3 linked regions of the Homo sapiens genome follow. The protein of the gene in region 3 interacts with the protein of the main gene of each other region in a biochemical or structural test. Each region holds a gene or a part of one and is shown on either strand. Other genes may lie near its edges.

Region 1 (3,753 bases), on a different chromosome or scaffold from region 3:
AACAGTAGAGTCTTAAAAGTATGGTCATTTCAATAAATGACGCTGGGTCAATTGAATATACATATGGGGAAAAACTGAAATTTGACCCCCTTCCTCATACCAAATGCAAAAATCAGTATAAGACAGGTTGTAGATTTAAATGTGAAGAGTAAAAATAAGGAACGTTTTAGAAAAAACACCTAAAGAGTATCTTCATGGCCTTGGGGTAGACAATGATTTTCTTAAACAGGAAACAAAAGCACTAACTATACAGTAAGAAAGTCGATAAGTTGGGCTACATTAAAATTAAGTTTCTATTTATGAAAAGACCACTAATAAAAGAATGAAAAGTCAAAGAATGGGAATAGATATTTACAATGCATATATCTAACAAAGGACTCTTATCCAAAATATATTATTTTTCTACATTGTATGTATATATCCGAAAAAACACAGAGCCGAACAGATACTTGAGCAAAAAAGTTGAATTGGTCAATAAACATGAAGTGATTTACCACTTTATCAATCTTAAGGGAAATGCAGATTTAAATGGTAGTATCATACCATCTGACACCCACCAGTTGATTAAAATGAAAAATAAGGAAAATAGCAAACATACTTTAACTCTCATTTAGTACTTACAGAACAACCAATTATGAAAACTGGTATCTATTAATACTGGGCATATGTATAAACTACGACCCAGAAATCTCACTTATAGGTATTTATCCCAAAGAATTGTTTACATGTGTACAAAATGTAGTACTGCTCCTAATAGCTAACAATGATAACCCAAATGCCATTAACAGTGGAATATGTTCATTTTGGGAAAGTCATCTAGCTCTGCACTAGTAATTAGTTTTTTTACTTTTATATGTGTACATTAAAAGAAAACTAATGTACATGGAAAGCTATCTGCTTCTATGTTTATAACGGACATATGGTAAGATACACAAACAATTGGTAACATTGCTTGCCTACAGGGTTTGTCTTTTGAACCATGTGAATGTATTACCTATTCAAAAATAAATATAGTCATGCATTACATAATGACATTTTAGTCAATGACAGACACAGACTTCTTATTGCCTATGACATTATGGCCATTCTAACATGGTGGTGCAATGCATCACATGTGTTTGTGGTGATGCTGGTGTAAACAAACCTACTGAGCTGCCAGCTGTATAAAACTATAACACATATTAAGATTGTATACAGTACATAGTATTTTGATAAACGTGTTACCACTTATTCTTTGTTATTTTAGAGTGTACTTCTACTTATAAAAAAGTTAACTGTAAAACAGCCAGGCAGGTCTTTCAGGAGGTATTCCAGAAGAAGGTATTGTTGTTATTAGAGATGACAGCTCCCTGTGTGTTACTGCCCCTGAAGACCTTCCAGTGGGACAACATGTGGAGGTGGAAGTGGTGTTGATTACCCTGGCCCTGTGTAGACCTGGGCTAATGTCTGTGTTTGTGTCTTTGTTTTTAACAAAAAAAGTTTAAAAAGAAAAAGCCTACATTTTAAAAATAGAAAAAACTGATAGACTACAGATGTAAATAAAGTATTTTTGTATAGCTGTACAGTGTGTTTCTCTTACTACAAAAGAGTCAAAAACTTTAAAAATGGATAGGTTTATAAAGTTAAAAAGTTCTGCTAAGCTAAGGTTAATTTATTAGAGAAATTTTAAAAAATAGTGTAGCTTAAGCATACAGTCTTTATGAAATATACAGCAATATACAGTAATGTCCTAGGCCTTTACATTCACTCACTACTCAGTCATTAACTCACCCAGAGCAACTTCCAGTCCTGCATGTTTTGTTTATGGTAAGTGTCCTATACAGGTGTACCGTTTTTGATCTTTTATACTGTATTTTTCTATGTTTAGATACACAAGTACTTACAATTGTGTTATAGTTGCCTACAGTATTTAGTACAGTAATATTCTGTACAGTTTTGTAGCCCACGGGCAATAAAGGGACGTAGTAGGCTCTACCATCTAGGTTTGTGTAAGTACACTCTTACGATGTTCACACAACGGAATTAATGATGCATTAAGCAACATATGCATCACTAAGTGACACATGACTGTACTACAGTTTATTAAAGATTATCATTTGTTATAGTAAATGCTAATGGACTGGATTCTTTTAAATTCAGATACTATCAAGTTGATTAAAACACAAATCCCAATTATATATCATTTGTAAGAAACAGACTTTTAAAAAGTTGGAAATAGAGAGACAAGGAGATCTTAAGAAATTTTTTTTTTTTTAGTGATAAGTTGGTAGTATGTGAAATGAGGTGGAATTTATCTTAACATCTAATAAACTGGTTGATGGGGGATGTTATGGTATAAGGCCCAGTTTATAAAGTAGAGGAAAAATGGGGTACAGTAGGAGAGCTAAGGGTCATAATGCCAACCGTATGCAAACAGTGTGGAAATAACCATCCTGAAGGTTTTATATTCTATGCTACAGTATCCTTTATAGCGGTTATTGAATTTTAGGATTATAACAAGTATTACTAATTCTAATTTTATTTTTTAGGGTTTTTTTGGTCATTTATAAACAAAACAGGTTTCTGTTTAAAAATAATTTAAGTACTATGGAAGGAGTGGGAGGAGTTTAACGTTGGCTGAAGTTGACCTTCCCTCTGAGGTTCTCACAGTCCTGCTTATCAGGAGTAACCACCATTAATAAGTTTATTTTATAATCTTCTAGAACCTATTCACACATTTGAAAAATAATATTGAAAGAAAAAACTTAAGTTTTGTTTTAGAATATTTTCTTTAAAATATGTAGCATTTTCAGCTTCATCATACACTTGCTTTGTATATTAAAGTTCTGTGAAATTGATGTTTAATGAACACTTTATATTGCACAGGTTTTAGAATTACTTCTTGCCTTCTGTTCAGTGACTCAGCTGCGCCATATGCTCACTCAGATGATGTTTGAACAGTCTCCACCTGGCAGCGCCACTCTGGGAAGCCATACTAAATGTTTAGAACCTACTGTGGCTCTACTGCGCTGGTTAAGCCAACCTTTGGACGGATCAGAAAACTGTTCTGTTTTAGCATTGGAGTTGTTCAAGGAAATATTTGAGGTAATAGGATGACTGACAGATTGACTTTTCTACTTTTGTGACTCTCAGTTAACAATTTGTCTTCAAAAACATTCTTTGTAAACTTACAGTTCATACACTTGAGGAAAACATCTCAATTACTAACAGTCATACTAGACTCGCTAGGTTTTTTTCTGCCAGTCATATATATTAGTGTTTTCCTTTTTTTTCACTGAGTAGTGTGTATGTATATATATATATAGTGCTCATTTCAGTGTAATAAGTAAAGATATTAAAAAGATTTATATAATTTGTTGCCTGACTACTGGGGATAGTTACATTGTCTCTCCATTGCAATAGATGCCATCTACCAAGTTTAGTAGGCCATTGAATGGACAATAGAGGCATATTGGATTCAGTCAGTGAAATGGAGTAGAGCATGCCAGATAATGTGCTAGGCACTTAAGATACAGACAAAACTCCACATTCTGGTAGATCTTACTATCTGGGCAATTTAATATTCTCTACTATTCTCCCTGTTTATAAATCCATTCTGTCTAACCCAATATCTCCTGAAAGTATTTCCCTTCACATAACTGGGTCTTACACACAAACAAATATGTGTATGAAGTGATTAAATATGTTCATTAAGAATTATTCACAAAATTTTCTATTTTATCTTGGTCTTGATTATTTAACAATCAGTTTTAA
Region 2 (3,753 bases), on a different chromosome or scaffold from region 3:
CTATAGGGGCGCACCACCACACCTGGCTGATTTTTGCGTTTTTTTGTTTGTTTTTGTTTTTTAGTAAAGATGGGGCCTCACCATGTTGGCCAGGCTGGTCTCAAACTCCTGACCTCAAGTGATCCACCCACCTCGGCCTCCCAAAGTGCTGGGATTACAGGCATGAGCCACCGCGCCTGGCCTCTAATTACTCTTGGGATAATTTTAAATAAGTGGCCATTAAGTAGTAAGACACTTCTGTTGGCCCATTGGAACCCGTGAAGGAAGCTCTGGAGCTGTTTAAGGGAAGAGTGCTCATGCCACAGGCCCTAATGCCAGCTGAGCAGAAATGCCAGGCGAGTAGCTGGAATAGTCTCTACAGGAGATTTTAAATCTCTGTCAAAACCTGTAGTGGACAGGCTTCATCCAGAGAAACAGAAGCAGGTGGAGATACACATTAGAGACTCATGGCAAGGAATGGCTTATGCAGAGGTGGGCTGGCCAGGTTTGTGGGACGTCTGTAGGACAGGCCAGCCAGAAGGCAGCTGATCTCCCCGGCCGACTGAAGCTGCCTTCCACAGCAACATCTCCCACATGCCAGCAACAACCACGAGTGCATGTTCCAAAGCTATTAGTAATGTCTCACACTCAATAGCCATTAAAGCGTAAAAATGTCATTCCGAATGTTCTTTTGTTCTGGACTCTGTGAATAGCACTGCGTTGGTCTGAGTCACCATTGTGAAAAATAGGTGGATATCTAAAAGATGAGGAGAAACAGACCTATGTGAGGCCAGGATCTAGAATACAGAAACAGTTCTAAAATGTGGTAATTTGAAACAAGCCACTCAAGAGTAAAATATGAGACTAATGAGAAAACCCAGATGGACTGATAAAATAAGAAAAGGACTTTAACCCTCTGGGAATCAGGGAATTCAAAACTAAGATGGCAAAAAGATTTTTTTTTACCTTTACGGTACTGGAAAAAAATTTAAATTGTGACTATACCAAATATTAGAGAAGGTGTAGAAAACTTAGACCTCACATGAGTTCGACTAGAATGTAAATAGGAACAAAGATGTTAGAGAATAATCTAGAAAAAGTGAAGGTGGGTGTATCCTAAGATCTAACAATTCCACTTCTAGGTATCTCCTCTAGGGAAAACCTGGTCTGTGTGCATAAGACACACACAGTGGATATTCACTGAAGCAATGTAGTAAAACCCTGTTTTGAGATCATGTAGATTCACATGCAATTCCCTTCACCAGTTTCTCCCAACAATAACATCTTACAAAACCATAGTACAATGCCACAACTAGAAAATGAGCATTGATACAACCCATTAACTTTGTTCAGATTTCAGATTCCACCAGTTTACATGTACTCATTTTATAGACTGCTCTGTGTGTGTGTGTGTGTGTGTGTGTGTGTGGTATGCACGTGCGCTTAGTTCTCTGTAATTTTATCACCCATGTAGAACCATGTGACCACCAACACATCAGAGGACAGGAGAGTTTCATCACAGGATCCTTGATGCTACTCTTTATAGCCAAGCTGACTTCCTCCTTCCCCCTCCCTGAGGCTGGCAACCACAGTATGGTTCCTATTTTCTATAATTTTGTCGCTTTAAGAATGCTCTATAAATGGAATCATACACTATGCAACCTTTCGAGACTGGCTTTTTCCGCTAAACGCAATTCCCTTGAGACCCATCCGGGTTGGCAAGCATGTCCATAGGTGTTTCTTTTTAATTACTTAGTGGTGTTCCGTCATCTGGATGAACCAAGGTGTGTTCAACCGTTCACCCAGGAAGGGCACTTGGATTATTTCCAGGTTTTGGTTATTGCAAATAGAGCTGCTGTGAACATTCTTGTACAGGTTTTTGTGTGAACATAGTTTTCATTTCTCTGGGATAAATGCCCAGGAGTGCAATTGCTGAGTCATATGGTTAGCACATGTCTAATTTTATGAGAAACTGCTAACTCTTTTCCAGAATGGCTACACCATTTTGCATTCCCACCGGCGGTGTGTGAGTGATTCAGGACCTTCCCAGCCTGGGCAGCATTTGGTATTGCCACTATTTTTTTTTTTTATTATTTTAGCTCTTCTAATAAGTGTGTAGTGATATCTCCTGATGGTTTAATTTGCATTGTCCTGATGGCTAATGACATCAAGACCTTTTTATGTACTTATGGCCATCTGTGTATCCTCCTCAGTGAAAAGTCTGTTCATGTCTTTTGCCTACTTTTTAATTGGATTGTTTGGTTTTAACAACTGAGTTTTCCTAATTCTTTATATTTTCTAGATGCTGGCCTTACCACTCGGTGATTATTTTCTACCACTTTATCTTGTTTTTTCACCCTCTTCACAGAGTCCTTTGCAGAAAGTTTTACATTTTGTTGAATTCAAGTTTATTAATTTTACCTTTTTTGGATTTTGATTTTTGGTGTGAAGTCTAAGTCTTCACCTAGCCTGAGGTTCCCGAAGATTTTCTCCTTTTTTCCCTACAAATTTTATAGTTTCACATTTTATACTTAAGCCTATTTTCCATTTTGAGTTAATTTTTGTATGAGGTGTGAGGTTTAGGTTGAGGCTTATTTGTTTTGGTTTGGTTTGGGTTTTGCCAACGAATGTCCAATAGCTCCGGGACTATTAGTTGAAAAGGTGATCCTTCTTCCATTAAATTGCTTTTGCACCTTTGCTAAAAACCGTTTCCACTTATTGCTGTGGGTCTATTTCTGGGTTCTCTATTCTGTTCCATTAGTCTATATGTCAGTCTCTCTGCCAAGAGCACACTGTCTTGATTACTGTAGTTGCATAGTCAACTTTAATCAGGTGGAGTGACTTCCTTCCACTTTATTATTCTTTATAAAACTTATGTTAGCTATTGTAGGTTCTGGGCCTTTCCATATGAATTTTAGAATAGCGCGTTTATGGGTGCAAAAACCTTGCTGGGATTTTGATAGGAATTTCTTCAAATGTATAGATTAGGGAGAATTAATAGTTCTACTGTGTTGAGTTTTCCAATCCATGATCACAGGTTGTCTCTCTATGGGTAATTAGGTCTTCTTTAACTTCTTTCATCAATGTTTTATAAATTTCAGTGCACAGATTCTGAATCTGAAATTTCTTTACAGTGTACATAAGTGTTTTATTTTCTTTGGGGCATTTCTAAATGGCATTGTGTCTTAACTTCAGTTTCCACGTTTATTGTGGAGTAGGTAGAACTGTGAGTAATTTTTATGTGTCAGTCCACATTCTGCAACCTACTGAGCTGCCTTATTAGATCTAGGAGGATTTTTTTTGGTAGATTTCTTGGGATTGTCTATGTAGATCATCATGTTATCTGCAAATTGGATAGTTTTATTTCTTCTTTCCAATTTATATACTTTTTATTTCTTTTTCTTATCTTACCGTACTGGTTAGAATGTCCAGTGCTATATTCAATAAGAGTTGCAAGAACTTGCCTTATTCTGACCTAAAGGGCAAAGCACTGAGTTTTTACCACCAATTATGATGTAGCTATAGGATTTTTATGGATGTTCTTTATCAAGTCAATAGTCCATGTCTATTCATGAATGTGTGTTGTATTTTGTCAAATGTCTTTTCTGGGACAATTTATATGTTCATGAGATTTTTCTTCTTTGACTTCATGGTATGATGGATAGTTGATTGACTGACTCTCTAATGCTGACCCACCCTTGAGTATCTGATATATATTCCACTTAGCCATGTATATAACTTTTTTATGTGTTGCTAGATTCACTTTACTAATAT
Region 3 (3,753 bases):
TGCCTCTAAGCCTCCCTAAGAGTTCATGGCCATAAACCAATAGTTTCAGAGCTACTCCTTTTTGATATGGATATATCCTGGACTTATTAAATTGACAGCACATATTTTATTTTTAAAATGTTATTAAGTTAACTAGGGGCATCGCTCTATCCTCAAAATTGTTTTGGAGACACCATTAACCCACTTAAATTATTAATAAAAAAGCCACTTATTCCGCACAAATAGTTGAGACTGTCCTGCTTACCTACAGATATTCGTCTAAGAGCCGGCAGACATTCAGATACCCGCAGACAGAACTTACTTTCTGGACCTCCCACAACATTCCTCCCTTTAGATCTTTTTTTTCTTACCCCGTCTTTCAGCTTTCTCATTGCAGAACTGCTGAGAATAATGGAAAATGCTTTGCCTGGAAACTTCCAAGAACAAAACTCCGGGGGCTAAGAGAACGCGATGATTTTTAAGCTGCCAGTTAAGATGCAGCTCCTTCATCATCACAGGTGAAGCACCAATGCCTCTCGCACGTGAAATCCGTACGCTCCTAGAGTCTTACTACCTAATGCATTTCTGCAATCTGGGACGCCTGTCCTTAGCGTCTTCAATAGTTTTGGGCACGAGGTGGACCGCGGAAGTATTGTATTGAAAAGTTAACGTTTTTCCCTTGGACACCCTCTCCTCACAGCTATTAACAAGCTGAGAGAAATCAGGTGACTCCCAGTCATGCAGAGGTTTCCTCACCATTTATGATCAAGCCAAATTAAAGAATAAAAATAAAATCCTATTGGCGCAGCGGCCACCAAGTCTTTGAGGCCTCGCCTCGGTGGGCGGGGCCGACGCCGGAGGAGAGGGGCTGCGCATGTGGGCGTGACCTCGCGGAAGGAGCTGCGGAGGGCGGGGCCGACTGGAGAGGGGCGGGGCTGTCGGGTGGGTGGGACCTCGCGGCAAAAGCTGCGGAGGGCGGGACCAACCAGGAAAGGACGGGACTGTCGGGTAGGCGGGACCTTGCGGGAGAAACTGCGGAGGGCGGGACCAACCAGGGAGGGGCGGGCTGTCGGATGGGCGGGACCTCGCGGGAGGAGCTGCGGAAAGCTGAGCTGGTGAGGGGAGGGGCTGGTCGAGGGGAGGGGCTGGTCGAGGGGAGGGGCTGGCCGAGGGAAGGGGCCGGCCGAGGGGAGGGGCCGGTCGAGGGGAGGGGCCGGTCAAGGGGAGGGCCCGGCCAAGGGGAGGGGCCGGTCGAGGGGAGGGGCCGGTCGAGGAGAGGGGTTGGTCGAGGGGAAGGGCTGGCCGAGGGGAGGGGCTGGCCGAGGGAAGAGGAGGGGAGGGGACGGGCTGGTCGAGGGGAGGGGAGGGGAGGGCAGGGGACGGGCTGGTCGAGAGAAGGGGAGGGCAGGGGACGGGGTGGTCGAGGGGAGGGGACGGAGGGGAGGGGAGTGGAGGGAGAGGAGGGAAGGGGAGGGGAGGGAAGGGAGGGGAGGCGGGGCCCAGCGGTGTCCCGCGAAACTGCCGCTCGCTCGGTTCCCGGGCCTCCCCGTGCGCCTCAGTGCAAAGCGTGCCAGGCACTCTTGACTGCAACGAGAGCCGCGGCGGTGAGGGGGCAAGGCCAAGAGGCCACGGTTCGCGTTTCGCCGGCTGCAGAAGTTGTTGCCATACATTTCAAATGTGCATTTCCTACGTCTCACGCTCTGTCTTGCGCCTCCACAGCGGGCCACGGCCCTGTCACCGCAGTCGCAGCCACATGCTCCCTCCCCTGAGTCGGCTCAGCTCTGCTCAGCGGTCAGCCCCGCGCCAGGAGGCCGCGGCCTGCCTGAGGCCGGCTCGCAGCGACTCGGGACGGAGGGCGGGGGCGTGAACGGGTCGCGCGGAGAGGGTGGGGGGAGCGGGGAGCGTTAGGGTACGTGGGGGCGCGTCGACCAATGGCAGGGCGCTGTTGAGTGCAGCGGGGCGGGGCCGGGCGCGGGGGTGGGGCGAGCGGCGGGCGGGGCGGGGCGGCCGGCCGGGGGGTGGGAGGAGAGGGGCGGGGCGGGCCGGCCGGGGGAGGGGCGGAGAGACGCCGCCGCTGCCGCCGCCGCCGCCGCCGCCGCCGCCGTGGCTGCCGCAGCCTCTGGGAGTCTGGAAAAGGGGAAGCGAGAGCAAGCGAAAGACTCAGTCCCCGGGCGGCGGCGGCGGCGGCGGCCGCGGGGGCGCGACGGCCGGGGCGGGGGCGCTGCTGCTGCGGGGGCAGGCGGCGGCAGGGGCGGCGGCGGCGGCGGCGGCCCGCTCCAGCCATGCCGAATAAAAACAAGAAGGAGAAAGTGAGTCCGGGCCCGGCCGCGGGACGGAGGGAGCAGGGAGGGACTGCCGGGGGAGGGCGCGACGGCACCGGGGTCCTGCGCCCGGGCCCCGGCTCAGTTCCCCGCCTGACGCCGCGGGCTTCGCGTCCCCGAGGGCGGCCGAGCCAGGCATCCCCGGGCTTCTCTCGGCCTCATGCCCGGTGGGGGCGGGGAGCCCGGGGATCGCGCCGGAGCCGCGGGGCGCAGGCCCGGGCCGCTGGGACCTTCGTGATGGGCCGGGGCTGGGCGTGGAGGGAGGGCGCGGCCCGGGGAGGGGGTCGGAGGGGCGCCCGTTTCCGACAGCGCGCCGTGGGCTTGGGCGGGCAGGTGCGGCCGCCGAGGGGGTTCGCAGCCTCGCAGGCTCCCGGAAAGGAGCTTCAGGGATGGGGGCTGTAGACGCCTGGGGAGGGACCCCTGTACGGGGGAAAGGGAGCGAGAAGGGACCCCGCTGAGAGCTGGTAAGGAATTCTCTGCCGCCCCGGAGGGACGCTCTGGGGCTCTCGAACACTATTATTATCCTGGGTGGCGGCGGCGGTGAGGGCTGCGAGCAAGGGTGCTGCGTTTGCATTCGGGGGGGCGGGTATGTTTCTGCTTCAGGTGGAGCTCTGTAGCGTTTCATTATCACCCCAGAAATCCTCACTCATAGGGTTTAGGGTGGGAGGGTAGAAAGGGATGTGATGTGGATCTCAAAATGCCAGAAGCACTGTATAAAATTGGATTTATCTGTTTTCTGCTTGAAGTTTTCAACCTCAAATGCAGATAAAACGAAAAGAATCTGAATGGGGGTTGGGGGGCATTGCACTGTTGGAATCCTAAACGGTATGATATAGAATTTCCTAATGGTATGAATTAAAAATATCAGAAGCTGTAGTTGTATAAATCACTTTTAAAACTGCATTTGGCTTATCTGATGTTTACCTGTCTAAAAAGTGAGAAGACTAATTGACTTTGCTTGATGTTTACCAGGAATCACCAAAAGCAGGGAAGAGTGGAAAAAGTTCAAAAGAAGGACAAGACACAGTAGAATCAGAGGTAACTGTCATCAAATATTGACTTTGTATTTTATACACAGCTTTTAACTTCAGGTAGAAAAACCGAGAGTGATAAAGCCTAGAATCTTCTAAAATGTTTCCCTATGTGAGGTTTTTTTTTTGTGGTGTCTTTTATAACCCTCAATTTTAGTTGTTTAGGTATTTACTGTTTTGCTTTGGAAAACTATTAATGATTTTATGAAAATTGTGCTTGCCTATGGGGTTTGTTTGTGGGTCTTTTGGGGTTTTTTTTGTTTTTTATTTTTTTGAGACGGGGTCTCACTTTGTCACGCAGGCTGGAGTGCAGTGGCGCAATCTCTGCTCACTGCTACCCCTTGCCGCCCAGGCTCAAGTGATCCTCTTACCTCAGCCTCCCAAGTAGCTGGGACCACAGGAACATGCCACCACACCCAACA

The links.
Region 1: the proteins of PPP2R5C (region 3) and CIP2A form a complex in vitro, tested with the Homo sapiens proteins (one study listed by BioGRID).
Region 2: of the proteins of PPP2R5C (region 3) and MBP, one has a biochemical effect on the other in vitro, tested with the Homo sapiens proteins (one study listed by BioGRID).

Annotation. Positions count from the first base shown.
Region 1 is NC_000003.12:108,568,720-108,572,472, reverse strand, and holds part of CIP2A (protein CIP2A), read left to right. Parts: intron 1-2,865; coding exon 2,866-3,084; intron 3,085-3,753.
Region 2 is NC_000018.10:77,126,177-77,129,929, reverse strand, and holds part of MBP (Golli-MBP), read left to right. Parts: exon of another isoform or gene 1-1,570; intron 1,571-2,281; exon of another isoform or gene 2,282-3,753. UniProt on the Homo sapiens protein: The classic group of MBP isoforms (isoform 4-isoform 14) are with PLP the most abundant protein components of the myelin membrane in the CNS. They have a role in both its formation and stabilization.
Region 3 is NC_000014.9:101,759,633-101,763,385, forward strand, and holds the start of PPP2R5C (serine/threonine-protein phosphatase 2A 56 kDa regulatory subunit gamma isoform), read left to right. Parts: upstream 1-2,076; 5' UTR 2,077-2,261; coding exon 2,262-2,288; intron 2,289-2,737; exon of another isoform or gene 2,738-2,764; intron 2,765-3,272; coding exon 3,273-3,338; intron 3,339-3,753.